Regions from separate parts of the Homo sapiens genome. Here regions 2, 3, 4, 5, 6 and 7 are each linked to region 1. Evidence: fine-mapped expression QTL. A gene starts in region 1. Each other region holds a variant in brackets. All regions are shown on one strand. Distances are from middle to middle.

Region 1 (4,067 bases):
CTTGAATGAGAAGGCATGTAGACAGAAGTGTTCCTATGGCAGAATATTTACAGCACTACTTTCAACCAAGTGCTTCTTCCATAAACATTTGAAATGAGATGAACTGCAGAGATTAAATGAAGGCTTCATATTGTACTTTTGTGTTTGAGGGGAGACAAGTGTTAAAAAACAAAACAAAAGAACCAAACTGTGACACCATGATCTTCTAAAAGGAGATTTTCTTAAGGAAAAAAATCCATATGGTGGGGTTCAAATTAAAACAAGGAATAAAGAATGTAGTTCTAATTCATGGCTTCCATTTTGAACATGCAAAGAACTCACTTGACAAGTCCAGGGATAAAATATTACAGGAGAAACCTTCTGATATCAATTGTAGTGTGTTGGTTTACCAATCAGGCAAACAGCAGTTCACTTTCAACCACTCAATATTTCAACCTTTCATGTAACAAAACTTATAAAATTCCTTTAGCTGTTCCTTTTTCTAAAGAAAAATGTCAAAAATACTACTGAATATACTCCACACTGAAGAAACCAATTTTGAAAATTCTTAGTACATATGTATTTTACAATATACTTACCATGAGTTTAGAAAAATTTGAATTCCAACCATTCTATACCAACCAACCACAACCCCACTGTCTACGTTCCCAGCCAGAAGACTTAGAATCCATGCTTGAGCCAAAGCCGCCATTAAAACCACTGCCCGACCCTGCATTGGATGCTGATCCCCAACCAATTGTTGCACCAAAATTAGAACCACTACAAGAGTTATTTCCAGAACCGAAGGCCTGGTTTGGCTCCCTCTGCATGTTGCCTTGGCTTTGGTTATCATCCGATGGGCCTGGCTGCTTCGCTGGCTGGCTAACACACCCATCGTACACCAACTGCTCTGCAGCACTGCCTGGGGGGCAGCCATCATGGCTGGATTAATGCTGAACGCACCAAAGTTTATCCCACCACCCATATTACTACCTTGATTGTTTCCCAAACCAGCTCCACCCCCTCTACTCTTACCAAATCCACCCTGATTCCCAAAGCCACCTGGATTACCACCAAATCTTCCACTTCTTGCTGTCTATTGCTATTGCGCTTGGGTTCGGCATTGGATATGTGAACGCTGATTCCTTTCATCGAGTCCTCTCCACAAAGAGACCGCGCAATCTGATCATCTGCAAATGGAACAAAGGCAAAGGCCCTGAACGGCTTGGGGACGAAGACATCCATCACATCCCCATACTGAGAGAAGAACTCCCACAGCTCATCCTCAGTCATGTCCTCCGTACGGCGCCCCACAAACACTTTTCTGCTTCTCAAAGGCTCATCTTGGCTTTGCCGCACCATAAGAACGTCTCCAAAGGTACTACAGTACTCTTTCAGGTCCTGTTCAGTTGTTTTCCATGGGAGACCCAACACTATTAAATCGGACTGGTCTTTTCACTTTCACTGCTGATGAAGCTTCTGTCTCACCCATTTTTCTTTTGTTATCTTTCGGATAGTTGACAACATACACCGGATTTCTCCAGCCAGCATCGGGGGCATGCAGAATTCCTTCTACCAGCCGGACACCTCTCATACATTGAGACACCGGATTCCTGCAGCGAAGCCCACACGCCCCTGGAAACTGGGCTGTAACCGTGGACAGCAGCACCGTCCCATCGTCTTCCGATGGTATTTCAATGGGCTCATCGTTCTCATCTTCGGTTACCCGAATATATTCAGACATCTTTTACTTTTCCACTAGGCCGCTGCTGGGAAGCCCGACAGGGACACCGAGGCAGCGACGGACCCAAGCGCCAGTGTTTTTTTGTTTGTTTGTTTTTTGTTTTTTTAAAGAGGCCACCACAAGTTGAGGCGGGACTACAACTCCCAGAGGCCGCCGCGGCCCGGAGGCCACGCCCCTTGGCGGCGAGCTCTGAGCCCTTTGCCGCATTTGACACTCGACATCCTCGTGCTTCTTAAAGCACTTGCCCAACGGTGAGCAACGGCCTCCAACGGTGCCCGAGGGACTCGCGCTGCCCGTTAAGCAGCTTTGCGGTGGCGGAGGCTGGGCTGCCGTCTCTCCGACATCCCGGGACGGAGGAAGAGATGAAGGCTCTGCAGCCCCCGCCGCCCGATTTACGCTTGAGAAAGCGAAGGCGAGAGAGGTCGTCCAGCCCCTGGGGGCCCAGCCCTAGAGAGCGGGGCGCGGGCTGCGGGGCCCGGCGGCCTGGACGGCGGAGCGTTGAAAGCTCCCCCAGGGATAGGAAGTGCAGCCGAAATCAACGATTGAGGTCAGTGAAGGAGCGGACGCTTGAGGCCTTGGAGGGGAAGCAGGTTTCTCCAGGAGGGAACCCGGGCCTCCGCTTTGCTCAGCGCTCCCCTCGCGAATGTGTTGAGCACCTGTTATGTGCTGGGGGTACAGAGGTGAGACTCACAAGGCCCCTGCATTGTCTTTAAGATCAGCAAGACCCCGCAGAGAACCCAAATCCAACGCGCACTGCCCAGAGGCAGACACTGGCATTCCTTGATAGACGGTAGCCAGGGAAGCCCAGGTCTTACTAGATTATTATCAGTACTTGGATTTGAATGTATCTGAGAGGAGGAGGGTTAAGGTTTAAGCTGTGGCTCAGAAGCCCCTCAGCTCTTCGTGGAATCTCCCAGGCTTTTCACTCTTGCATCCTCATGGAAAAATACTGCCCTCCCTGGGAAACCATGCTTTCTGTGCACACCTGCTCTGTTCCCATGTCGCTGTACTACCTATTGACCTGTCAATGGATGATGACACTTGGGGTACTATCCTCTCTCCTCCAGATCTTGCCCCACCTTAACCTTGAAAGAATATTAAATGCGCCCTTAGACGTCAGGAACCATCCCTCAAACCTTGCCATTCCTCTCTGTTGAACCTGCTCCAAATCTTAAGTGCCAACCTCCATCTTATCCACTTTATCCTGGGGAACTTGTCCTCACACCCCGTTGAGGTTTCTTACTTATTGTCCTACTGTTTTCTTCACACTCCAGTTTCTTAAAAACAGTCTTCATTCTCATTTTCTTCATTTCCTCATCACCTGTTTGTCCCTAACAAAATTTCAGTATGGCTACATTTCCTGCCATTCTACTATAGAAAACTTCTGCCAGAGTCTCCAATGAACTCCTGATTGCCGAGTAGACTCTTCAGTTTTCTCACCCGAACTTTGCGGCATTTGATACTCAACATCCTCATGCTTCTTAAAACATTGTTCTTGCCAGAGCACGGTGGCTCACACCTGTAATCCCGGCACTTTGGGAGGCTGAGTTAGGCAGATCGCTTGAGCCCAGGAGTTCAAGACCAGCCTGGGCAACATAGCAAGACTCCATCTCTACCAAAAATGCAAAAAATTAGCCAGACATGGTGGCCCGCACCTGTAGTCCCAGCCACTCGAGAGGCTGAGGTGGGAGTATCACTGGAGCCCGGGAAGTCAAGGCTGCGGTGAATTGAGATCACGCCAGTGTGCTCTGGCCTGGACAATGGGAGTGAGACCTTATCTCAAAAAATTGTTCTCTGTCTAGTCTTCTTGCTCTTCTTGTTCCACCATTCCTTCTCAGGTTCTGGCAGTGGCTCTTCACAACTGGATATTAAATGTTGTCTTTTTTTTTTTTTTTTTTGAGACAGGTTCTCACTCTGTCTCAGGCTGGAGGCTGGAGTGCAGTGGTACGATCATGGCTCACTGCAACCTCGACCTCCCAGACTCAAGTGATCCTCCCACCTCAGCCTCCTAAGTAGCTGGGACTATAGGCGCACATCACCATGCCTGGCTGATTTTTGTATTTTTTTTGTAGAGAGAGATGTTTGTAGTGTTGCCCAGGCTGGTCCAGCAATCCACCTGCCTCACTCCCAAAGTGCTGGGGTTATAAGCATGAGCCACCGTGCCCGGCGAATATTGTCTTCTTAAATATTGTGCCCCACATTTCTTTGCTAGGCCCTCTTCTCTAGCTTCTAGGCTGTAATCTGTATGATCTCCATGGCTTCACCTGCTGTGCTACCAGCTGCAAAATCTATTTCCAGCCCAGCCCTCTCTGGAGCTCTCATAGAGTTTATCCAAATGCCCCTG
Region 2 (4,067 bases), 21 kb before region 1:
TAGAGATGGGGCCTCTTCCCTTCCCCCTGGGACGCTGGCACAGGGATCAGAGCCAGTGAGCCCAGGAAGCCACTCACCACAAGGACCCAGCTCCCCCGGGTCTCTGGGCAGACGCACCAAGGGAAATTTGTAAGAAATTAAGCCCACAGCTTCCTTGAGGATTATGTCTTCTCCACTCTTTCCTTTCTCTCCTTCTTCCCCAGATTCAAGAGTTACTGCCAGCCCATAGAGAACCTCTGTAGAAATTAGAAAAAGGTGTACTCCATGGCCATGAGCAGACCCACCCCATGGGACCAGCCTAGTGCAGAGTTCCCGCTCTTGCTTGCCCCCTAGACAACTCTGTAGCCTTATGCAGTGCACAGACTACAGAGCTGCCTAGGGCAGCCCTGCCAGACCCAGACATGACATCCCAGGAGCCCAGTGCTTTAGCCACTGTTCCCACCAGGGGACAGATTTCTTGTGAGAAGAACACCAGATAGAGAGGCTGAATTGCAAAACCTCCATTTACATAGGAGTTTGCCTTGGACTAGCCCATTTCCCTTCAGCACATCCCAAAGGCATGGGACTGCCTTGGCACAGCTGACAGATGTCCCAGACACCTGCTGCAAGAGCCCCAAGTCACTCCGCGTGATGTGAGAGGAAAACCAAAGTTCCCTGGATCCCCCTCCCACTCCCCAGGGAGGCCATGGGGACATACCCAGAGTCCCTCCTTTACCAATTGAGTCCCTCCATCTTCCTGAAGAATGCCTTACTCAGCAGCACTCGTTATTGCAGAGGAAGAATTTGGTTGCAAGGCAATGCTCCCCTCTGATCTTGCTCAGGCTGTTTGACAGGTGAAAGAGGAAACATCCCTCTTTAAGGAACAGTAGTGACAGTGCTTATAAATTGAAAAATAGAGGAGGTCAGTGGCTCTCCCGTTCAGATTTCACTAACCAATTTTTCCCCCAAATACTGGGGAACAGCAGAGACATGACAGCTTTTTAGTGTATTTATTTAACAAATAGAACTTTGTATTACCACTTATCATATTAGCATTTCATAAAAGAAAGGACATTTAATACCAGAAGAAAATAAGGAATGTGTCCTGCAATTAAGAGCTTGTAATTTAAGTTGATTCAATTTAGTTTTATGGAAAAACCTGATGTTTTGCCCTGATTTTTCTCACTTCACTGAGGATCAGGGAAAACCGCTCGGTGGACCAGGCAGGCCCTGGGCCAGCATTTGGAAACCCAGGACTGTTGAACGAAGAGGTGTCTTCAAATTTGGAGTTAAAATTTTAACTCCGAGTATTTGTTTTTCTGCATTAGCTGCCCCTGGACTAAGAAATACTTCCGGAATAGATTCACCTTGGAAAAAAACAGGAAAGAACAGAAAATTGAAGTCCAAGCGGGTCAAACCTCGAGACTCATCTGAGAGCACCGGATCTGGGGGGCCCGTGTCCGCCCGGCCCCCGCTGGTGGGCTTGAACGCCACAGCCTGGTCACCCTCAGACACGTCCCAGTCCAGCTGCCCAGCCGTGCCCTTTCCCGCCCCAGTGCCAGCAGCTTATTCACTGCCCGTGTTTCCAG[C/T]GCCAGGGACTGTGGCAGCACCCCCGGCACCTCCCCACGCCAGCTTCACAGTGCCTGCTGTGCCCGTGGACCTCCAGCACCAGTTTGCAGTCCAGCCCCCACCTTTCCCTGCCCCTTTGGCGCCTGTCATGGCATTCATGCTACCCAGTTATTCCTTCCCCTCGGGGACCCCAAACCTGCCCCAGGCCTTCTTCCCCAGCCAGCCTCAGTTTCCGAGCCACCCCACACTCACATCCGAGATGGCCTCTGCCTCACAGCCTGAGTTCCCCAGCCGGACCTCGATCCCCAGACAGCCATGTGCTTGTCCAGCCACCCGGGCCACCCCACCATCGGCCATGGGTAGGGCCTCCCCACCGCTCTTTCAGTCCCGCAGCAGCTCGCCCCTGCAGCTCAACCTGCTGCAGCTGGAGGAAGCCCCTGAGGGTGGCACTGGAGCCATGGGGACCACAGGGGCCACAGAGACAGCAGCTGTAGGGGCGGACTGCAAACCTGGCACTTCTCGGGACCAGCAGCCGAAGGCGCCTCTGACCGTAAGGATTTTCTGATGCTCTTTCCCCAAAGCAGGCAGCAAACAGCACACCTGGCAGGCCGGCCGCACATCCTCAGTTCAGACATGGGGGTTACACGATTGAGGTTTCCACCAAACCCTGTAGGTTTTGCCATGAATGTGTGTGCCAGAAATTCATGCTTCCCACTTAATCCTATCAGAGTAGATTATTCGAAGCCTTTTATTGTCGTGGAATCTGAATGAAGGAGGAGAGATTGTGATACAGACTCCAGAAAGCAGCATGTGACTTGACAGTATTTGTGGGCTTCGACTTTTTAAATGACGCTTCAGAGATAAAGCACAGTCAGGTTAAATACCAGAGCTAGGGCTCCTCAGGGTGTGGCGCCGGAGCCTGGCTCAGGTGGCCCCGGTGAAGGCGGAGAAGGAGGGGGACACAGCCCTAAAACCAGCGTGACCTCAGTTTCCATCCTCCGCAGGCGTAGGGACACTGTGTGAGATTCTTAACCAGTTAATGAAACGGTAGTTGTATTTGCAGTTAAACGCTTGTGTTTCTGAACGAGCTCAAGTGTGTGGGAACGCCAGCAGCAGTGCAGTCCGTAGGCCTCAGGCGATTCCCTGCCTTGGCCAGAGGACCTAGGGCTCCCGGGTGAGGAAGTGCAAGCATGTAGATCTGTGGAGCTTCTCCCAGTCCTCCTGCCACCTCCGGGCTCCTGCTTCTGGAGTCCTGGGCCTGCAGTCTGGGTTTCCAAGGAGAGGAGGGTCAGGGATGCTCCCCAGGCCAGGCCCCGCCCTCAATCCCAAGGCAGCCCCCACACCGGGTGCTGTGAGAGGCGTTTTCCCCATCCATGTCTGCTGCATGTGAGGAGGGGGCTGTGGCCAAGGAGCAGCCTGAGGCTTTCCCCCCTGGAGCCCAGGTATTGCCGTCTTCCATGTGACTCTCCGAAAATTAAATGTAACTAGACGGCATCCATAGAGCATCAGTGGAATTTGCACCGTAGGCCTGGTGGTGATGCGTGGTCTGCTCGTTAGGCCGTCCCTGGCCGTGAACCTTGCAGCCGCTCCACAGCACCCCTCCACCCTCACCCCACTCATGCCCCCCACCCCCACCCCGCTGCATATGCTGTGTCCTGACTGAGCCCCTGAACAGCAGTATCTGCTTCCTGTCCCTAAAGCGTGATGAACCCTCAGACACACAGAACAGTGACGCCCTTTCCACGTCAAGCGGCCTCCTAAACCTCCTGCTGAATGAGGACCTCTGCTCAGCCTCGGGCTCTGCTGCTTCGGAGTCTCTGGGCTCCGGCTCACTGGGCTGCGACGCCTCCCCGAGTGGGGCAGGTATGTTGGCCCTGGCGGGGTGTTAGGCACTTGGGAGGTTCCTGCAGGATGCACTGCTCCAGAGTCACAGGCCGGCCTCTGTGCTCAGAACAGGGATCACCGGCACTCCCCAAGCAGCTGTCAGAGCCCATGCAGACACCCACACAGACACACTCTCCCTGTTCAGCATGGCTGGCCCTAGCTAGTCAGAATTCCACATCCTCCCTGTTTGCTTCTGATTTCAGTGCCTACAGGCCTCACACCCTGGCTCCTTGTGGGACCAGCCCTCTGACTCCCCAGATAGTGGTTTGCCTTCCTGCTTTAGTTCCACTTGTGTGAACTGAGGGTATGGAGCACCTGCAAGCCTCTACCCGCTGGGATCTTTCACATGTGATCTGGAATCTCAGGCACCAGAAATGTACACACTCTCCACAAAATTGAAGCTCCCCTACTTCTCTGGAGTGAGCTTTCACCTCGCCTCCCTTCGCAGGCGTGCTGCACAGGTGAGGCTGGCTAGGGAGCGCTCCAGGCCAGCTGCCTCCCCTTGTGGGAAACTGCAGTGCCCTGTGGTCCACATGAGTGGAGATGGTGAGAGCTTGGGAGAGAAGGTCAAGGCTTCTAACACGCAGCTCCACCTGAGCTGCTCAGGGCTTCACAGGAAAGAATCGCCTGCATGG
Region 3 (4,067 bases), 320 kb before region 1:
TTGGGTTTGTTTGTCTTTCATTTCAAGTGATTTCTTAATTTCCTTTAACAGTTTTTAAACTGTGGAATTATTTTCTCAGTATAGTCCAAGCTACATCTAATAAGCTCTAGCATGTAACTTTTTCTTTTTTGTTCTTTTCTAAATATTGTGTCACTGCTGATTTGGTTTTTCTCTTTTATCCATGAGATGACTGTTTTAAGTTCCCAGGAAGCGAGTCTTCTTGTTCCAATTTATTCCTGAATTTTTATTTTGACTGTCATTACACTGTAGTTAGGAGATGTGACCTCTACTGTCTCCAGCATTTAGAATGTATTGCGGATCCAGGGACACAGCAAGTCAGGTGGGCTCTGTCGCAAGGATGGTTACAACATAGACTACTTCCATGTCAGTCTTCCATTATTTGCATACTCGAGACCCTGATGTGTTGGCTAATTTGCCAAGAAACCCCCGCAGCAGACTGCGTCCGCAGGGCAGGGCTGAGTAGCAGGGGCAGCACCTCTCACAGGGGCAGGGCCGCTTGCCCAGCCTTGAGGAAGGGGGACCCAGACATTGCCTTTCTCAATACTGAGCCCCTAAACAGGATTTCTGGTCTGGGGTCTGGGACTAGGCTATCTGGACAGTCAAACTCTTCCCACTGCGCCATCAGCCCCACTAGGAAAGAAAGAGGAGAAATTAGGGCTTTGCTTTAAAGAGTTCAACGGTCAGAATATGTCCCCCGCAAACGGACATGCTGGAATCCTCATCCCCAAGTGAGGGCGGGGCCTCACATTAGGAGGTGATGAGGTCACAGAGGCAGAAACCTCACGAACGGGATCAGGCTCATCAAAGAGGCCTGAGAGACGACACCTACCAGCTGGAAGGCGGTTCCGCACCAGACACCGAAGCTGCTGGGCCTTCGACCTCGGACCTCCGTCTTCCAGAACTGTGAGCCACACATTCCTGATGCTCCTAAGCCACGCCGTGTACGGTATTTTGTTACGGTAGCCCAAATGGACCAAGATAGGAGCTAAAGGTAACTGACCACACCTCCAGCCCACCCGCAGAGCTAACAGACAGGCCCTCAGCTGCAGGCCTGGGGTAGAAGGGCTGCCAAAGGGGCTGTGGGGGTGACGGGGGGGCCGCATCCCTGTGGCCCCACTTGGCACAGGGGCTTTGACTCACTGCTGGAGCTGCCAGGCTTTGAGTGGACAGGCCTGGCCTGGGAGGGGGGCAGCAGCGGCAGAACGCACCTTGGACAGAGGACCAGGTCTCTCCCCTTTGTCCAGAAAGAAGTCCCCATGTTGAGTTCAAGGGAGGGGTGAGGCTTCAATTGAAAAAAAAAATAATAATAATGTCAGACTTGCTACCAGTCTTTGCATATGGACGTTTTGGCTAAATTTTATTTGATTTGGAGGGAAAAGGTAATGTGACATCATCCACACTCTGAGTAATACGGAGCAATTATTACCTGTTAAGCCCACTTACCTTCGTCTCCAAAACCTACCAGGGACTGGGAGATTAAGAGTGCCCACAGCTGTAGTGCCGCCAGTTTCTCCCTGTGGTTCCAATCCCACTTCAAATATTTTTTTTTTTTTTTGAGACGGAGTCTCGCTCTGTT[C/A]CCCAGGCTGGAGTGCAATGGTGCAATCTCACTACAACCTCTGCCTCCCGGGTCCAAGTAATTCTCTGCCTCAGCCTCCCGAGTAGCTGAGATTACAGGCACCCTCCACCACACCCAGCTAATTTTTGTATTTTTAGTAGGGATGGGGTTTCACCATCTTGGCCAGGTTGGTCTCGAACTCCTGACCTCATGATCCACCCGCCTTGGCCTCCCAAAGTGCTGGGATTACAGGCGTGAGCCAACACGCCCGGCCTCTCAAATAAATATTAATACTGTCTATTATATTTAGTTTTATGGAAGTATATAACTTCATTATGGATTGAACATTTTATCAACAAAAAGAAACACTCTTCATGCAGTTTTTCCTCTTTGAACTCAAATTTTCTAGTATTAATATCGTGACTCCTACTTCACTCTGGGTTTTATTTTCTTTTTTATTTACTTGGAAATATTCTCATGATTCTGTGTTCATTTTTCTTATTGTAAACACACAAAAAGTCTTTGGGCTTATGTGGCCCCCGAGAGTCTTTTTCTTAAAATGGGTAAATTTATCCCATTTACATTTATAATTATAATTGATACATTTTGTCTTATACGATCTTATTTCAATCTCCTGGTGGAATGCTTCCTAGGGGTTTTCTTCCATTGTTGTTTTACATATTGTTAGGTTGTCTTCTTTCTCTCTGTCCTCTCCTATACCTTGGAAGAATACAGTCATCGTTGTTGTTTTCATTGTAATTCTTTTTTATATAAATATAAGGAAATGAATACGGGGAGAAGTTAATTCTGCTGAGTGGAGTGGGATGTCCAAAGGATCATGAGGAAGCTAAAGTGCAGTGGCCCCATAACGGCTCATTGCAGCCCAGAACTCCTGGGCTCAAACGGTCCTCCTGCCTCAGCCTCCCAAGCAGCTGGGACCACAGGTGCACAGACCTACACCCAGCTAATTTTTTTTTTTAATTTTGTAGAGAGGGGATCTCTCTATGTTGCCCAGGCTGGTCTCAAACTCCTGGCCTCAAGCAATCCTCCCACCTTGACCTCCCAAAGTGCTGGGATTCCAAGCATGAGCCACCACACCCAGCCTTAATTCTTTTTATAACTTTAAAAATACTTCTTATCCTGTGTTTCTGAACGTTATGATCTACTGTAACAAAACAAAGTGAATAAGTTAGCAGAATTACACTTATTCCAACTTCCCTAGCATCCTATTTTTGGTTGGTATTCTCTGCACATTTTTTGCCATTTTGGTTAATCTGTTGTGATTTTTATCTTATTAAAATTATTAACATTTATTCAGAAAATACTTATTGATTATTCCCTAAGTTCCAGGTTATGTTGCTGCTAGTGGCTCAGTCATACACAAAACAAAATATGTCCTCGGAATAAATAATCTGTCCTCAGAGAGACTGCGGTCTAGAAGGGAAGAGAGATGTGACTAATTCCACAATAGACGTGTAGTCTGCCTTGGTCTGTTCAGCTGCTATAACAAAACGCTATGAACTAAGTAGCCTGTAAATAATAAAAATTTGTTTCTCACAGTTCTGGAGCCTGAAAGGCCAAGATCAAGGCAGACTCATTGTGTGGTGAGGGCCATTTTTCCGGCTCATAAACAGTGCTTTCTTCCTGTGTCCTCACATGGTGGAAGGGACCAATAAGCTCTTTGGGGCCCCTTTTAGAAGGGCACTAAGCCCATTTATGAAGGCACCATCCTCATGAGCTACTCACCTCCCAGAGGCCCCATGTCCTAATAGTATCACCTTAAGGGTTAGAATTTCGATATATGAATTTATAGGGGCTGGGGGGTCACAAACATTCAGATTGCAATATAAAACTTTTCAGCTTCTTAGAGAGTGACACTTACCTTATCATTGGTGGCACTTTACAATCTCCATCAGCCACATGGAAACCTGATTAGATTAGTGATCAGGGAAACGTTTATGTTCTGATGTGTGTCCAGACTCAAGACTATTATTTGGACTTAATTTCACATTTAAACGAATTCCCTGCTCACCATCCACCCTTTCTTTGTCCAATCCATGTTTAGTTTATGATTTGGATTCATCTTTTGGTTGGCTGAAATAATTCTTCATGTAGTAGTAATAGCTGTTGCTGTTGATTACATTGTTTAATTGAGAAAGTGCATACACAGGAAACAAGTTCTCCTACATGAGATATTGTCTTCTGCTGCCTTATACAAGCAGGAACTTTGGCTAAGAGAAAATCTTGGGTTCACAGACTCTTCACCTGAAGAATTACAAATACTGGCCTAACACAATGTTCAGATAGTTCTGAGGCCAGCCTCACAAGTTCCTTTAGTAAATGATCCTTTTCTTATCACTAGGTGCTTGTGAGATTCCACGCATCATACTAGAGGTGTGAGCACTGCACCTAAGGGTGCCTCGGATCATCCCTGAGATGCAGGCACTGCACCAGGAGGTGTCTTGGATCATTCCTGAGGTGTGAGCACATC
Region 4 (4,067 bases), 110 kb before region 1:
AAAATAACCACAGATCATCTTTCACACTGCGGCTGCTGTACCAAGTGCGCCCACTCCTGGAAATGCCAGCTCTCAGGGGAACGCACACAGAGAGAGAAGGATGTGCTGATCGGTATTCCAGCTACGCTCCAGAACGTGTAAAAGTCAGACAGATACAAGGCAAGTTGGGCCCAGCAAAAATTTCCTCTTCCCCTAAAGTCTAATTTTACACTATTTTTACCTTAAGTGAAACTGAAGAATTCTAGCATCTTGAAGAATTCCGTCTGAAGTCACAGATGACAGTGGTTACTGATACTGAACCAAGGACCACCCCCTCTGAGGCAGCAGGACGAGGGCTGGGCACACCCACCACACGGCTGGACTGAATGTGATTGGCTGTGACAGGCCAACTTCCCCAACGTGCCTAACTAGCACTTTAAACATCTCTACTGCGAGCATTTTCTGAGTAGAATAAAGCAGAGCAGGACGAAGACATAAAAACCGTTTCTCTATGTCATCAGCCACACCACTGTGAGATCCCGACAGCAAGATTAAGAAAGCATTTTGACTGAAATGTAAAAATAATCTATGTATAAAAAGGCATATAATTAACTAAAAGCTGAGTTAATAAAGTTACATAACTTAGCATATTAAAGCAAATAAAACCTCAAGTTATGTCCAGTCTTCAATACATCATGAAAAAGTCTCATGAACATTAAAGTAGTTAGAATAATTTTTTAACAATGTATAACTACATTGAGATATAACCATTCACATTAAAGTGGTGAGGAATTTAAACTAAAGAATATATTTTTCTTACCTATTTCTGATGTTGTCGTTTCCTGATTTGGCTCATTATTTATTCCAGACACTATGGAGTCTAAACTTTTAGCTGAAATATTATCCTCCTTCCTTCCTGACATAAAATAGTTAACAACAGATTAAAATATTATAAAAGATTTTGTGTTTGGTTGTTTTAGCTGGGATTTATAAGGGTTACATTACACCAAGGTCACCAGCAAACTGTCTTGTCAACTAAATGGTCAATTCTCAGCCTCCACATGATTCCCCTCCTTAGAGCTTGACAAGAAGCCCCCTCTCCTTCCCTAACACTTTCTTCCTCTCCAAGTTTTCCTCCAACTTGTTGGCCTTCTGTTTCCTTTGCAAGGATGATCCTCCCTCCTCCTCTTCCTCCTCCTCCTCTTCCTCTTCTGACCTGGGGGACCACAGCAAGCTCTGGAGTTCACCACGTCCTTTCCTACCTACACACGCCCCTGGACTAATTACTGCGCAAAGGTCCATGTCCGTAAACATCACTTGTATGCTAGAACTCTCCATTTTTTGTTTTTCCCTTTGGTTTCTCCAGCTCTCTCCTGATCTCCAAGTCAATATATCCAGCTGTCGACTAGATGTTTCTACTTGGTTGGTCCATAGCCATCTCAAATTTGTTGTCCAACACAGAATTCCTAACACTGCCACCCATTCCACCAACCAGTGTCTCCCAGAACCGTCTATGTCAATAAAGGCCACCCCCTAGGAGCCCAGACCCCTCCCACAATGAATCTCATCTTTGATTCCTTTCCGTTCAAACAAGTGGCATCCAACCTGCCAGCACAGTAAACCCACTCTGCTGTCACCACTGGCACTCTGGTCCAAACCATCACCTCCTCTCATCCAGATGCCATGGCCCCCTCCTCGCTGCGCTGCAGCCTTTACTCCTGCCACTCCACAGTTTTAAAAGGAGGCCTTCTACAACCTAAGTCAAATCTTGCCTCGGTGCTGCTTAAAACTCTTCAAGGACTTCTGTGTGCACTCACTGTAAACCACACAGCTGCTGTGGACCGGGAACAGCAGCTCCGGGACCAGCAGCTCCAGGCCCTGCTTCCTGGCCCGGCCCTTTCCCCTATCACTGTTCCTCTCTCCACCCACCTCACCACTCACACACCTGCATGTCCTCCTTCACCCAAGTCAGCTCTCTGTCCAGATGTCCTCCCTCAGAGAGGCCCTCCCTGCTCACGCCCCTCATTCCTGCTCCTCTTGGCTTCATTTTCCTTGAAGATTCATCACAAACTAACATGCACATATGTACCCCTGTGTTCTCTTTATTATCATAAATGTCTGCAGAATCAGTGAAGGAAGGCTCAAATGGACAATTTAAGCCTGTGATTGACTCAGGGTAGGAAATCCTCACCTGGCCAGGGGCAGCCCTGCATGGGGCCAACATGTCCCTCTGCCC[C/A]CTCTCCACCCTGGCCAGAAGGCAGTGTTCTAGAGCGCAGGCCCCAGGTCAAGCAGGGCCACACCTATGCCAACCACCCCCACAGACTTCCACATGTTCAATGACCAAGCAGAAGCACAGGACCAGGCAGTAAAGCTTTCAACTCTCAACATTCACTCACAGCCTCCACTATGGTTCACTTAGCTTACCAAGCTGTTTCATGCTATGTTCCTTCTTAGCTTTACAGTAGGAAAAGTTATGTTCCTTTTCAGGGGAAAGACTATTTTCACTGGTTTTAGGGTCCCTTCTTCCTGACATAAAATTGCACAATGAAAATATATATTAAACTTAATCTGTAATGTAATGTAAAGCAGTTAACAAACAAATGAAATTAAAATGTACTCATTAAGTCAAAGTGATCAGCTCTGTATGCACTACTTAGAAATAAGCAAAAATTATAATATTCTCAGGCAGAATGCTTTCTGGATTCTGCAGGGATTCCAGAATGACTTTAAGAGTCTAAATATGTTTAACAATGTGATACCCTCACACCCTGTAGTAAAGTCTCATTCATCCCCTTGAGCAAGACACAGAGGTCCAGTGTGTCACACACCTCTGGGTACTGAGCATTTGCCCAAATGAGAACCTACTTAAGCGAGGCAGAATGTTCAGGCAGAGTGCCAGCTTTGCTGGGGAACCCACAGGGAGGTCAGTGCCCGGCTAGCAGGAGGGGAAGACAGGAGTCCACTGAGCTGTTGATAGCTCAGGGAAGCTCAGTGTCAAAAAGCCCATAAATGTCTGCTAATAAAATCTCTTAAGACCATACAAAAGAACCCTAGAGCACAAGCTCACCAGTAAACACAGATGCACATATCAGAAGCAATTAGAAAAGAAGAGCAGATGATACAACTGTCTGCTTAGGAAAGCCAAAAGAATCAACAGAAGAACTACTGGATTAAGAGGCAACAACAGGCCAGGCACAGTGGCTTACAGCTGTAATCCCAGCACTTTGGGAGGCTGAGGCGGGCAGATCACTTGAGGTCAAGAGTTCGAGACCAGCCTGGCCAACATGGTAAAACCCTGTCTCTACTAAAAATACAAAAAATTAGCTGGGCGTGGTGGCATACACATGTAATCCCAGCTACTCAGGAGGCTGAGGCAGAAGAATCACTTGCAGTGAGGTTGCAGTGAGCCATGATTGCGCCACTGCACTCCAGTCTGGCAACAGAGTGAGACTCCGTCTCAAAATAAATAAATAAATAAATAAATAAATAAATAAATAAATAAATAAATAAAATAAAATAAAATAAACCAGCGAGCAACCACTGTGACCAACATACGCAACCAAGTACACGCAACGTGTTCTCAGAAGAGGGGGACACCTTCACTAAGCTGAAGTTAGAGGTGCCTAAACTTCCTAAACTAATGAAAGCATATATTTAACACAAGTCCAGTTAAATTCTGAGACGTTAGTTTATTTTGCAAGAGTGGAATTCTTGAGTCATGAAGAGTTTTTAAAATTCATCCGGAAGAATAAGCAAATAAGATGGCTTAAAACTTTTTGGAAAAGAACAATGATAGAAAACTAATAGTAAAAATAAAAAAGTGGAAGTAAAAAACACCACACACAAAAAAGCCCGTAACCCAGACTACAAAAGGCTTCACAGAGCAGGAGAGAAGCATTCAATGAATAAGTGATCCTGGAACCACGGATGGATTATTCTGACAAAATAGATTCAGAGCCTCACCTTATACCATGAATTAAAGTAAGAGATAACATAAGAAATTAAGTAAAAAAAAATGTATGATAAAGCACAAATCTTCACCTCTCAAATCTCTGGACAGATTACCAAAAAAAAGATTAGAGGCCTCA
Region 5 (4,067 bases), 350 kb before region 1:
GGGGAACAACAGTTCCTCAGAGGATCCTGGGGCTGAGTCCCAATGACCACACCAGGACTCTGCTCACTGACCTCCCACTCAGCTCTCCTCCCTGCTCTCTCTCCCAGGTCACAAGCCTCACCTGGCGTCTCCTCCCAACTAAACCACTTGCATCCAAGTCTCCCTTCCCTGTTTTCAGGGAAGCCCAGACTAACACACGGCCATGGGATTCCACTGGCTGCTCCCTCACTCAGCAGCTAAAATATGCTCTTTGTAGTCGGGGGACTCACGTGGGTTCTGAAGTCTGGGAAGGCTTACTTCCAAAACCACCAGGCGCTTCACGCTCGTTAGTAGTCATCTAGATTCTGAATCTGCAAAGAACTATCCCCCACCACACAAAACAGCCATTCAGAACACGTTCTTGGCAGGGGAATTGCTCATTCAAAGGCTCAAGACACAAGCCAGAGGCCAGCGCGCCTCCTTTTCATGTTCGAAAGGATTCACATGGACGGCTGACGGGGCTCGGAGAATCGGGCTTGTTCTGCGGCTGCTGCACTTGGGCAGAGAGCAGGCAGTCCCAGGCAGAGATTTTCACGGACTGATTTCACTCCAAGTGGGAAACGTGTTGTCAAAGCAGGAATGCTGCCGTGGAGTGTCTTGGACCCGCATGTGACGGGGACTGGGCCTGCCAGTGCACAGAGCCTCGTGGTGTGGTCATCCGCCCCAGCGCACCCCCAGCAGCTCCCATCTCCCAGAGGCTGCCGCACTTCCACCTGGACACCCCGCGCTGGCCCTGCCGCCTGACCACTCCAGGGCTGGCCCCACCAGCCTGCTCGTCTTGGCGGGGAGACCCTCGTGGCTTTTCAGTCATTGTGCAAAGCAGCTTCTTGCTGTTGCTGTTTGTAGTTTCTGGTTGGAAGAATGTAAATGCCATGGGGCAGAGGACAGCCGGGCTGACAGTGCAGTGGCAGGAAATGAGGAACTTTGCTGAGCTGAACAAGGGAACCTGGAGGGTAGACCCAGCAACTACGGAAACCGCTTTCCCCCAAATAGACCAACCTGACCGAAAAATCAGCTACCAACTACATGTGGCTCAGCTGGGAGCCAACACAATGCAGGAAAGTTCAGCCTCACCGAGGTTCAGCTCTAGGGCAGGGGCCTGGCTACCACTAGAGGGGTGAGCAGGGCAAAAAGATTAGAGGGCCTTCACTCAGTGACATTTTATAACAGGTTTTCTAAATATAAATGTAACAAATATTTATATTATGGAAAATTTGGAATCTATGAAACTTTGAAACACTGAATTTACAAGCTCAGGTCTTGCCTTTCCATGTTGCTCTCAGACTCTTTTTAAACCTAGGTTTCACGTCGGCTGCCCTCATTCTGTTCTAACATCAGAGCACGTACGGTGTTTCCAGACTATTCTTGAAGACTGACCACTGTGGACATCTTTGCTCATGAAGTTTATCTCCCTTTACATGAATTTTATTCTCCCTCTCAGAAAGGAGCATGGTCTCAAGGGTGAGGGGAGAGCCAGGTCCCGGCCCTGCTCTGGGCTTAGCATCATACATAAAAGTGTAAGTAGTGGGTCAAAGGTAGGATCCTCCCTCAAAATTTAATATTTAAATAACAAGTTTTTTATAGAAATAACACATTCTCATCATAGAAAAATAAATTTTGTATGATGATTTTTTGGTCAAGTCCATCTATTTGGGGGAAAGTGGTTTCCATGGTTACTGGTTTCTATTCACTATTTTAAATTTTAAAATAGTGTCAGAATTCAGGTTTCCTTTTCCTCACGTAAGGAGCTTAGAAGTCATCCCTTTATCCTAACAAGTGAAAAGCTTAATGAACTGAAAAATTAACAACTATTCTTGGGTCTACCAGAGAAATGAGGTCTCCGGGCAAACTGCTGCTTTCCAAACTGAAGATAAAAAAAGGTTGGGGGGTTGGGGGCTAGGGGAGGGATAGCATTAGGAGAAATACCTAATGTAGATGATGGGTT[G/C]ATGGGTGCAGCAAACCACCATGGCACATCTATACCTATGTAACAAACCTGCACGTTCTGCACATGTATCCCAGAACTTAAAGTATAATAAAAAAAAATTGAACTATGAGAAAGAAAGAAAAAATAAAAAACAGGTGGACACAGAGAATCCCAGCCCACCAGAGCAGACACATCTGCAGGAATCAGGCCTGCGTCGAAACCCTGGGCTGTAAATGACAAATTGCCAGAGGCTCAGGGTGCGCAAGTTTGAGAGTTAAAAACTCCAGGCAGGCCCAATCACAGGGGGCCCTGGCCTCTTTTGTGAATTTTACCTCCAGGAGCTCCACCAGGTTCTCACAATGAAATCAGGGGAGAATCTCCTCATGCTTCTGGCAGGGGGAGAGAAAAAGGAACCAGTTTAAACTACACTGGGGCATTCTGAGGCCTGCCCTCAGAAGAAACTACATTACCAGAGCCTAACCTGCTGGGATTTTAGCAGAGCCTAACTACCTAGGAAGGGAAATACCCAGCTCCAACCCCCTCTACACATTATGTCCTAGCTAGGAGGGGAGAGAAAAACTGAGAAACACTTGTGAAGTTCACAGTCCAGAGACATAGTCTTACCAAAGGACCAAGACCTACTCATAGAACTATAGGACGGACGCTCCCTTCACTTCTCTCCCCATGCCTTACACCACATCACTGAAGGCCTGTCTTCCAGAGTTCCTTTTACCCAGGATGTCATGTTAGGCTACCAAGAAAATAATTACAAGGCATACCGAAAGGCAAAAAACATAGTTTGGAGAGATAGACAAAGCGTCAGAACTAGACTCAGATAGGGCAGGAATGTTGGAATTCTCAGACCAGGAATTTAAAATAACTGTGATTAATATGCTAAGGAAAAAAAAGAAAGGAGACATGAATTACTAATAGCAGACATAAAGGAGGATACATCACTACAGAGCCCATGGATATTAAAAGGGTAATAAAGGAATACTATGAACAACTCTATGCCCACAAATTTGATAACCCAGATGAAATGGGCCCGTTTTTTGAAAGACACAATCTGCCAAAACTCACACAAGAAGAAACAGACAATATAAATTGGCTTTTATCTGTTAAAGAAATTGAAGCAATAATTAATAACCTTCCAAAACAGAAAGCACTAGACTTAAATGGATTTCCTGGTGAATTCTACCAAACATTTAAGAAAGAAATTATGCCAATACTCTATAATATCTTCCAGAAGACAGAATCAGAAGGAATACTTCCTAACTCATTCTAATACTACTTAATACTTCCTAACTCATTCTTCCTAACTCATTTCAGCATTAGGCCAGCATTACTCTAATACCAAAACCAAAGACGTTGCAAGGAAAGAAACTACAGACCAATATTTCTTATGCATATAGACGTAAAAACTCTCAACAAATATTAGCAAATTGAGTCCAAGAATGTATAAAAAGAATTGTACACCATGACCCAGTGAGATTTATCCCAGGTTGGCAAGGTTGGTTCAACATTTGAAAATCGATTAATGCTTAAGAATGAAAAGAATAGCCACAGACTGGGAGAAAATATTTGCAAAATATACATCTGATAAAGGACTATTATCTAAAATATACAAAGAACAACTCTTAAAACTCAACAAGAAAATGTGCAACTCAATTAAAAAGCAGGCAAAAGTCTTGAGCAAATACCTCACCAAAGAAGATATACAGATGGCAAATAAGCGTATAGAAAGATGTTCCACATCATATGTCATTAGGGAATTGCAAATCAAAAGAATGAGATACCAGTACACACCTAATAGCATGGCCAAAATCCAAAACACTGACAACACCAAATGCTGGCAAGGATGTGGAGCAACAGGAATTCCCATTCATTGCTGGTGGGAATGAAAAAATGGTATAGCTACTAATGTGGTTAGGCTTTGTGTCCCCACTCAAATCTCATCTTGAATTATAATCCCCATAATTCCCACATGTCAAGGGAGAGACCAGGTGGAGATAATTGGACCATTGGGGTGGTTTCCTCCATGCTGTTCTCATGATAGTGAGTTCTCACAAGATCTGATGGTTTTATAAGTGTTTGGTAGTTCCTC
Region 6 (4,067 bases), 78 kb before region 1:
CCCAATGTTTTCTTCTATGGTTTTATAGTTTGGGGTCTGAAATTTAAGTCTTTAATCCATTTTGAGCTGATTTTTGTATATGGTGCAAGATGAGGGTCTGGTTTCATTCTTTTGCATATGGATCTAGTTCTCCCAACACCGTTTATTGAAGAAATCATCATTTCCCCAATGTGTGTTCTTGGCATTTTTTTTTTTTGAGGCAGAGTGTCACTTGCCCTGCGTCCAAGACTGGAGTGCAATGACACAACCATAGTTCACTGTAACCCCAAGTTCCTGGGCTCAAGCAATCCTCCTACCTCAGCCTCTGAAGTAGCTGGGATTACAGGCGTGTGCCACCATGCTCAGCTAATTTTTTGTCTGTTTGTTTTTGAGATGAAGTCTCGCTCTGTTGCACAGGCTGGAGTGCAGTAGTGCGATCTCGGCTCACTGCAACCTCCACTTCCTGGGTTCAAGCGATTCTCCTGCCTCAGCGTCCCCGAGTAGCTGGGACTACAGGCATGTGCCACCACGCTCGGCTAATTTTTTTGTGTTTTTCGTAGAGATGGGGTTTCGCCACATTGGTCAAGCTGGTCTCAAACTCCTGACCTCAAATGATCCACCTGCCTCAGCCTCCCAAAATGCTGGGATTACAAGCGTGAGCCACTGCGCCCGGCCATCAGCTAATTTTTATTTTTTTTTGTAGAGATAGGATGTTGCTATATTGTCTAAGCTGCTCTTGAACTCCTGGGGTCAAGCTATCCTCCCACCTCAGCCTCCTAAAATACCAAAATTACAGGTGTGAGCCACTACCTCTGGCCTCTTGGCACTTTTGTTGAAGGTAAATTGACTGAGCCCTCCAACCTGAAATATCCCACCTGCCACTCCCTGAAAGCCTGCAGTTGACTCCCACTGACCCCAGGAGTCCTCCTCCAAGCTCCGGCGGTGCTGTCCAGCTCCCCCTGGCCCATGCTTAAACAAGGGCATGACTTTCCCCAGCTAGTGCACAAGGTCCAGGAAGGCTGGGACAGGGTCCATATGTCTCCTCAGGGCACCCCATGAATACTGGCTGCATGAACGTGTGGGTGCCTGAAGGAGGAAGGAGGAAGTCTTTAAAAAGGAGTGGCGCAGCCGGGCGCCAGAAACAAAACCTGGCCAGGCGCAGTGGCTTACGCCTGTAATCCCAGCACTCTTGGGGGACGAGGCGGGCAGATCACGCGGTCAGGAGATCGAGACCATCCTGGCTAACACGGTGAAACCGCATCTCTACTAAAAATACAAAAAATTAGACGGGTGTGGTGGCGGGCGCTTGTAGTCCCAGCTACGCAGGAGGCTGAGGCAGGAGAAGGGCATGAACCCGGGAGGCGGAGCTTGCAGTGAGCTGAGATCATGCCACTGCACTCCAGCCTGGGTGACAGAGCGAGACTCCGTCTCAAAAAAAAAAAGGCGTGGCCCTCTCAGCTATGGCTGCCTTGGCCCTGTGGTGGGTGCTGTGCCACTCAGGGCTGAGGCCCACACTGCCCCAGCTGCCAGAAGCAGTGATCCCTGTGGGCTCACAGCCAGGTTCCCTTCTGGGGAGACTTAGCCAAAGGGGCCTACTGTGCCTCCTGCTCCCTATGGGCACC[C/T]GCATTCAAGGGCTGATGGAGTTGGGGGTGCAAACCCAGTTTCCCAGAGATCTCTACCCAAGAGAGTTGCTCTCAGAAGTGGTCAGAGGAAATGGACCCTAAATTGAGATTTCGGAGCTGAATCACCACTGACCGGCTCAACTGAAGCCCCCAGGGTGGGCGTGAGAGACCACTGTCTCAAAAACAAACAAACAAACAAACAAACAAACTAGAATCCCCAGATTCTCCTGAATCATCTGGACCTACAGAGGAGGCCCACTGCTCCTGTTAAAGGCTAGCACCCCCTTTCTTGAAGTGTTTTATATAGAGAGAATGTGTGTGTTATAGTTGGGGGGCGGGGGGAGAGAGAGAGAGAGATGTCTGCCTTGCAAGACAATGCATGCGTTTTTCAGGATCTATGCCAATATCCCCCTCCTGACACCAGACCAATCATGAGGGTCAAACAACAACATAACCTAGCTAGGACATGCTGGCCTGCTAAGGGAGGGAGGGACTCTATTCCGAAGGAACTGCAGGATCTGCCTAGCATGGACCAGCAAGATCCAGGAGAGCACATCCAGGACTGCATCCCAAGAGTGCTGGACCCAGCAGGGGACAGAATATAAAGACGGATAAGACAAGAGTTGATGAATGTGGGAGGACTTTCCGTGATAGAAGCTTGTGACCCTGGCTGGGTCCCAGGGAGACAGTGCTAATGGGCTGTTAGAATGGCTCTTGGACACCTGCAAAGAGCTATGGCCTTCACTAAGTGAAGGAAAACTTCCAGCCCCACCATGGAGGATGGTAGGGAAATGAGCCTACTAGAGCACATACGTGATGTTGGGCCAGCAAACCTACCAGCCCACTGTGTCCTGTGAGAGGGCTCGGAGGTCACTTCATTTACCAAAGTGACAATATTTGGCATGTAATATTGGTTTTTATAGCCAAGAGTGGCAAGGTCAGAGTGGTAGCCAGGAAGACCTGACATGCAGAGAGCTATGCGGCCGGATAATACAACAAAATGTTCCTAGGGACCAGGGGAATGAGCAGTCAGCAAGGGTGTGGCCGAGCTTTCGAAACTAAAATAAATCAAACATGGATGAGCAGGAGGCTGAGAGTGGCTGCCCCAGTCCCCCGCTACAATCCCTTGCCTGGTTTTGGACCTAGAACTCATTGAAAGGCCAGGTTCCCAACATCACTGCCGGTGCAGGGAGCCAAAATCTCCCCCACAGTCCTTCCCCAAAGAAACCTAAGGCCACTCATTCAAGTAACTATACACAGGGAGGGGGAATACAGAACCATTTCAAGGACTATTGCACACAGAATCCTGGGGACATGGAGCATCATCTTGACTCCTGTTAAAGGGAGGGCATACGGGGTCAGGTGATAGAGCCCTAGCCCCACTTTGGATTTTGGTAGGTCCACAGGGTCCATGGAGCCACCTGGTGGTCATTTCCCGAGCCCTCAAATGCAATGATTGAAGTGGACACACTTGGCATATGGGGTAACCCCATGTTGGCCAGATACTTGGGATTGTGGAATAAGAGCTATAGACCTGGGAAGCTGAGTGGGAATCCCTGACACTGCCCCTCCCCCAGCCAAGACAGTAAATAAAAACCAATATTGCATGCTGAAGAGAGTTACAGCAATTATAAGGGACGAATAGATTCCACTGTTAAAACCTGAAGGATGCAGGTATACTTTCTCCCCATTATAGAGTCATTTAATTAGCCAAACCCCTGCAAAAACCACATGGATCCTGGGGATTGACAGTGGAATACTGCAAACCCAAACAAATAGGAGCCCCAATTGTGGTATCTTTGCTATAGCAGGTCAACACAATCTCAAGTCCATGGTAGGAAGCCAATACATTCATTTCCATCCCTACTTAAGAGGAGAACCAGAAGCCGCTTACATTCATTTAGGATGGATAAGAGTACACATTGGCTGGGCACGGTGGCTCACACCAATAATCCCAGCACTTTGGATCTGAGGTGGGCAGATCATCAGATCACCTGAGGTCATGAGTTTGAGACCAGCCTGGCCAACATGGTGAAACCCCATCTCTACTAAAAATACACAAAATTAGCCGGGTGCGGTGGGCGCTTGTAATCCCAGCTATTCAGGAGGCCGAGGCAGGAGAATCGCTTGAACCTGGGAGGTGGAGGTTGCAGTGAGCCGAGATTGCACCACTGCACTCCAGCCTGGGCAACAGATTGAGACTCCGTCTTAAGAAAACAAAAAAGAAGAAGAAGAAGAAGAATACACACTGATTGTCTCACCCCAGGGCCATATTAACTCTTTTCCCTCTTTCCTAATATAGTCTGGATGGACCAGACACTCTGCACAATGCTGCACTGGTTCAGTATACTGATATCCTATTAATTAAACTGGATGACCAGATTGACGAGGAGAAACCTCAGAGGCCTTATTAAGGTGCGTGTGCTGCAGAGGGTGGGAGAGAAACCCTGTGAAGTTCCAGGCGTC
Region 7 (4,067 bases), 39 kb before region 1:
CCCTGAGCCCAGAGGGCCAGCCAGCAGGTAGAGCGCCCATGGTGGGCTGGAGGGGCCCAACCAGAGGCCTCTCCTCCCCAGGAAGCCCCTAGAACCCTGGGAGACAGCAAGGCTGGTGGAGGTTGTTAGGGCAGGCCAAGTGAGCAGAGGGTCCCCCACCTCCCAGTCACCCAGCCTGGACACCAGGTGCCATGTCCAAGACAGCGGGGTGAGTGGCGCCTCCCAGGGGGTGGAGACAGCTGGGGTTTCTTCCAGCCATAGAACCCTGATGTGTTGTTTCAAATAATATCATGCTGGACCTCCCAGTATCTGTAACAGGTGTAAGAGTTAAAGAGGAAAGAAACATGAAACGCAGCTTGGCAGTCAAAGACAGGTTTTCTTTAGTTAAAACCTGAGAGGTACTCCTGGCCGATTTTGGTCAGGAGCGCTTTCTCTTACAGACTGAGAGTATATGTTGGTTTTAGGGTGAGGGGGCTTATCACAAGCTTGGAATGTTTCTGTGTGTGGAGAAGTTTATGGCGGGGCTGGAATCTCTCTGGGAGGAGGGGAGGTTATCTTGGGGCAGGCATCTTTCCGGCCCGGATTGGGGTCATCTCGGGGCTAGTATGTCTCTGGTCCGGGAGGAGTTTGGAATGTTTCTGGTTGGAGATGTTATTTGTGGTTTATGGTCATGTTGACCTTAGCCATTAGGCTGATGCCCTTTGGATGTAGGCTGTTTTTTATTAAGGTGAACTTTAGAATGAGGGGCTTGTCCAAGATGGCGATGCTCCTGCTCTGTCAACAGGCAAGATAGGATTTTTTGGTGAGGGCTAGGCAAGGGAGTCAGAGAGCCCCCCACCTCCAACGCTCCTGGTGGGCGGCTCCCTCCAGCCTGCCTGCCTGAGTCGGATGTGGCGTCCGACACCATCTGACCTTGTCATCAGAGCCCTACTCTTCCTTTTCAGGATATGTTTGCGGTGGCCGTGTCCCTGGTGTCTGGGAAGATCCTGTACATCTCTGACCAGGTTGCATCCATATTTCACTGTAAAAGAGATGCCTTCAGCGATGCCAAGTTTGTGGAGTTCCTGGCGCCTCACGATGTGGGCGTGTTCCACAGTTTCACCTCCCCGTACAAGCTTCCCTTGTGGAGCATGTGCAGTGGAGCAGGTGAGGTTATCGAGGTAGTGCCTTGTTCCCTCTGGGGTCGGGAAAGGGGCCAGGAGCTGGGCCCAACCCAGATGTGGTGCAGGCGCCCTGCCTCACCTTTCAGAGCCCACCTGTGGGGGCCGCCAGCTGCCTGCTCTGGCAAAGGTAAAGGATAAGCAGTTGTTCGTCCCTTCAGAATAAATTTAGAGAAAAAAATAGTCTTTCCATACATTTCAGAGAGAGAAAACCGTTAGGCATTTTAGAAATGAAGTTGTTTGGAAAAGCTGGAATCTTGCTGTGATTGCAGTCGTGGGAGGCCGGGTCGTGGGGGCAGTGGGGAGCGTGAGCAAGGCACCCTGCTCCCTGCACGCAGGCGTCCCCCTGCCACCTTAGCAGCTGCAACCAGTGAGTGGGTCATATCCCAGAGTGACTTCCTGAGGGTTCTTTGCCTTGACCAGGGCTGGCTTTGGGTATACAGACTGTGAGATCCCTGGGCAGATGCCGCTGGCCCCCGAGGCACTGCAGGCCAAGTGTGCTGCACTGTGGATGGCAGCCTTCTTGGCTGCTGGGCCTGCCCCTGTAGCCACCGTCTACCCTGCCTCATTTCCAGGCTCCGCTCCCCAGCCAGGCCCTCCCAGCCGGGTCTGGTCTAGTCCCTGGAGCCAGCTGGGGGTGTGCCTGCCTCTGGGCCTCTGCCGGTGCCTCTGACCCCCACTCTCCTCAGGG[C/T]CTCCTGTGCCCCAGCTCTCCTCCCTGCCCAGCTAAGTCAAGGACCAGGTGAATTCTCAGGGGCCTTTCCAAGCTGCTGATTTTATATCATTTTCCGTAACTAGCCATTGCTTCTACTTTCCTAATTTCTTTTGAGTAGATGAAATGTATGAAAGACCTAGATCTAAGATTTTTTTTTTTTTTAGTTTAGATTCCCACGAAAGCAGAGATTTCTGTTTTTTAAATCCCTTTCAACTATTAGGGAAACACCTCTTCCTTCATTTCTGATGAGGTTGCCCAATTGATTTCATATTTTCACTAGACATTTCACATTTTAAAGGAAGTTACTATTTTACCAAAATACCGATGTAAGCCTTGAATGCCAAGTTGTTTCTGTTAGAACTGACTATCCCAAAAATATGTAGCATGAAATGTTTGGGGCTTCTGTTTCACTGTGGCCAGGCCTCTGCACACCTACCCCAAAGTCTGAGGCAGCTGAGAGGCCAAAGAAAGAGGCTGACAAATTCGGTTTCTTAGAAAGAAATATTTAACAGGGACTTAAGAACAGAGGCCATGCATGTTGTGGGTGGCGATGAGACAAGACTGGATCCCAGTCTTGCCATTCCCCCAGACCCAGGGCTTCTGTGGGACTGGCACACCGGCTTCAGAGGGAACCAGTAGGAATTTGCCCTGAGGGCAGGATTTACCTTAAGTACCTGCTCTTACTCAGGGACAGTAGGTAGATGAAATCTCCGAGGCCTTCCCAGAAGTGGGGTTAATCAAAAATCAGCATGGAGGCTTAGCTTCCAAGATATAGCTGCTGTGGCCTCCACAGCTTTCTTTGTCAATGTTCTGGACATCCGTGACTGTGCTCAGTTGTCGGTTAGTTGGTGTGTTTGCAGCAGTGCACCATGAGTGTGCTCAGTTGTAGGTTAGTTGGTGTGTTTGCAGCAGTGCACCGTGTGTTCAGTTGTAGGTTAGTTGGTGTGTTTGCAGCAGTGCACCGTGAGTGTGTTCAGTTGCAGGTTAGTTGGTGTGTTTGCAGCAGTGCACTGTGAGTGTGTTCAGTTGCAGGTTGGTGTGTTTGCAGCAGTGCACCGTGAGTGTGTTCAGTTGCAGGTTGGTGTGTTTGCAGCAGTGCACCGTGAGTGTGTTCAGTTGCAGGTTGGTGTGTTTGCAGCAGTGCACCGTGAGTGTGTTCAGTTGCAGGTTAGTTGGTGTGTTTGCAGCAGTGCACCGTGAGTGTGTTCAGTTGCAGGTTAGTTGGTGTGTTTGCAGCAGTGCACCGTGAGTGTGTTCAGTTGCAGGTTAGTTGGTGTGTTTGCAGCAGTGCACCGTGAGTGTGTTCAGTGGTTAATTAATTGGTGTGTTTGCAGCAACATCATGTGCCATTTTGAAAATGTAAGCCTCCTGGTGCTAAAATTTTAGCACTGCATAATTTGTAATGCACCACACTCATGAAGTCTATGTAATTTTAGTCAAAAATGTAATAGAAGGTTTCTCACATAAAGGATTTACTTTGTGCTTCCATAAATTTTCAGTTTTCACCTTGAATCTTGCTTGATTCTGCTGCTCCTCTTTTGTTTGTGAGAAATGAGGAACACTGTATTTAGTTGTTGGTTTGGATGAATGACTTTGGGCTCTCTCTTTTAGATTCTTTTACTCAAGAATGCATGGAGGAGAAATCTTTCTTTTGCCGTGTCAGGTAAGCCTGGTTCCCAGTTTTCTTAAATTAGAAAACCGTATAAACATTTCACCCCAGCACTGCTCCGCTTGAGGCTGGGGGGCGTGATCCCTGCCTGCAGGGACTCAGCACGCCTGTTTCTGAAGTCTACCAGAAAACACAGTCAGTTACATTTTAAATGTGTACAGGTCGCTAAGAATGCGGCCAGCAGTGGAGTGCTTTAACCTGCCCCTCATGGACCTGCACTTTCTCTCTGTGTCTTGCAAAGGCCTGTACCCCAGGGTCGACAGAGTTTCTGAAAGCACTGCGTCTTTTGGTTGTCTGTGCGTTTTTCTGGGGAGAGACCCGTAGCTTTCCCGACAAGGGTCTTGGTCCAAACCAGGGTGACTGATTGAGCATCCAGCTGCACTGTCAGGAGTGACCCCGAGCCAGACCCTGGCACCCTCAGGAGTCAGGGCCGAGGACCCCTGGCGGGAGCAGCACCCCTTTTCTGTCTGCTTTACCAACCCAGGGTGCAGGCTGCTCCAGGCTGCCCCACTGGTGGGGGTGTTAA

Evidence for each region. PIP is the estimated chance that this variant, and not a neighbour inherited with it, causes the effect.
Region 2: its variant is fine-mapped to the expression of LINC02610 in whole blood (TOPMed, PIP 0.97).
Region 3: its variant is fine-mapped to the expression of LINC02610 in whole blood (TOPMed, PIP above 0.99).
Region 4: its variant is fine-mapped to the expression of LINC02610 in left ventricle (GTEx, PIP above 0.99).
Region 5: its variant is fine-mapped to the expression of LINC02610 in whole blood (INTERVAL, PIP above 0.99).
Region 6: its variant is fine-mapped to the expression of LINC02610 in whole blood (INTERVAL, PIP above 0.99).
Region 7: its variant is fine-mapped to the expression of LINC02610 in whole blood (TOPMed, PIP above 0.99).

Annotation. Positions count from the first base shown.
Region 1 is chr2:238,229,537-238,233,603 of GRCh38, reverse strand. LINC02610 (long intergenic non-protein coding RNA 2610) reads left to right here and starts at 1,927. Exons shown (of 3, transcript NR_026926.1): 1 at 1,927-2,270. It also overlaps the pseudogene TARDBPP3.
Region 2 is chr2:238,250,943-238,255,009 of GRCh38, reverse strand. It overlaps PER2 (period circadian regulator 2), which reads left to right. Exons shown (of 23, transcript NM_022817.3): 19 at 1,308-2,098; 20 at 3,249-3,411. Among named protein-coding and RNA genes, the nearest start is that of HES6, 13 kb to the right of the region's middle. The variant C/T (reference allele first, on the strand shown) is at 1,569.
Region 3 is chr2:238,551,419-238,555,485 of GRCh38, reverse strand. It overlaps LINC01107 (long intergenic non-protein coding RNA 1107), which reads left to right. Exons shown (of 3, transcript NR_037809.1): 1 at 1-1,012; 2 at 3,939-4,067. Among named protein-coding and RNA genes, the nearest start is that of LINC01107, 2.0 kb to the left of the region's middle. The variant C/A (reference allele first, on the strand shown) is at 1,598.
Region 4 is chr2:238,335,190-238,339,256 of GRCh38, reverse strand. It overlaps TRAF3IP1 (TRAF3 interacting protein 1), which reads right to left. Exons shown (of 17, transcript NM_015650.4): 8 at 800-895. Among named protein-coding and RNA genes, the nearest start is that of TRAF3IP1, 17 kb to the right of the region's middle. The variant C/A (reference allele first, on the strand shown) is at 2,216.
Region 5 is chr2:238,582,972-238,587,038 of GRCh38, reverse strand. No RefSeq gene overlaps it. Among named protein-coding and RNA genes, the nearest start is that of LINC01107, 30 kb to the right of the region's middle. The variant G/C (reference allele first, on the strand shown) is at 1,985.
Region 6 is chr2:238,307,327-238,311,393 of GRCh38, reverse strand. No RefSeq gene overlaps it. Among named protein-coding and RNA genes, the nearest start is that of TRAF3IP1, 11 kb to the left of the region's middle. The variant C/T (reference allele first, on the strand shown) is at 1,602.
Region 7 is chr2:238,268,391-238,272,457 of GRCh38, reverse strand. PER2 (period circadian regulator 2) reads left to right here. Exons shown (of 23, transcript NM_022817.3): 6 at 945-1,146; 7 at 3,484-3,535. Among named protein-coding and RNA genes, the nearest start is that of PER2, 18 kb to the left of the region's middle. RefSeq lists an enhancer at 987-1,486. The variant C/T (reference allele first, on the strand shown) is at 1,852.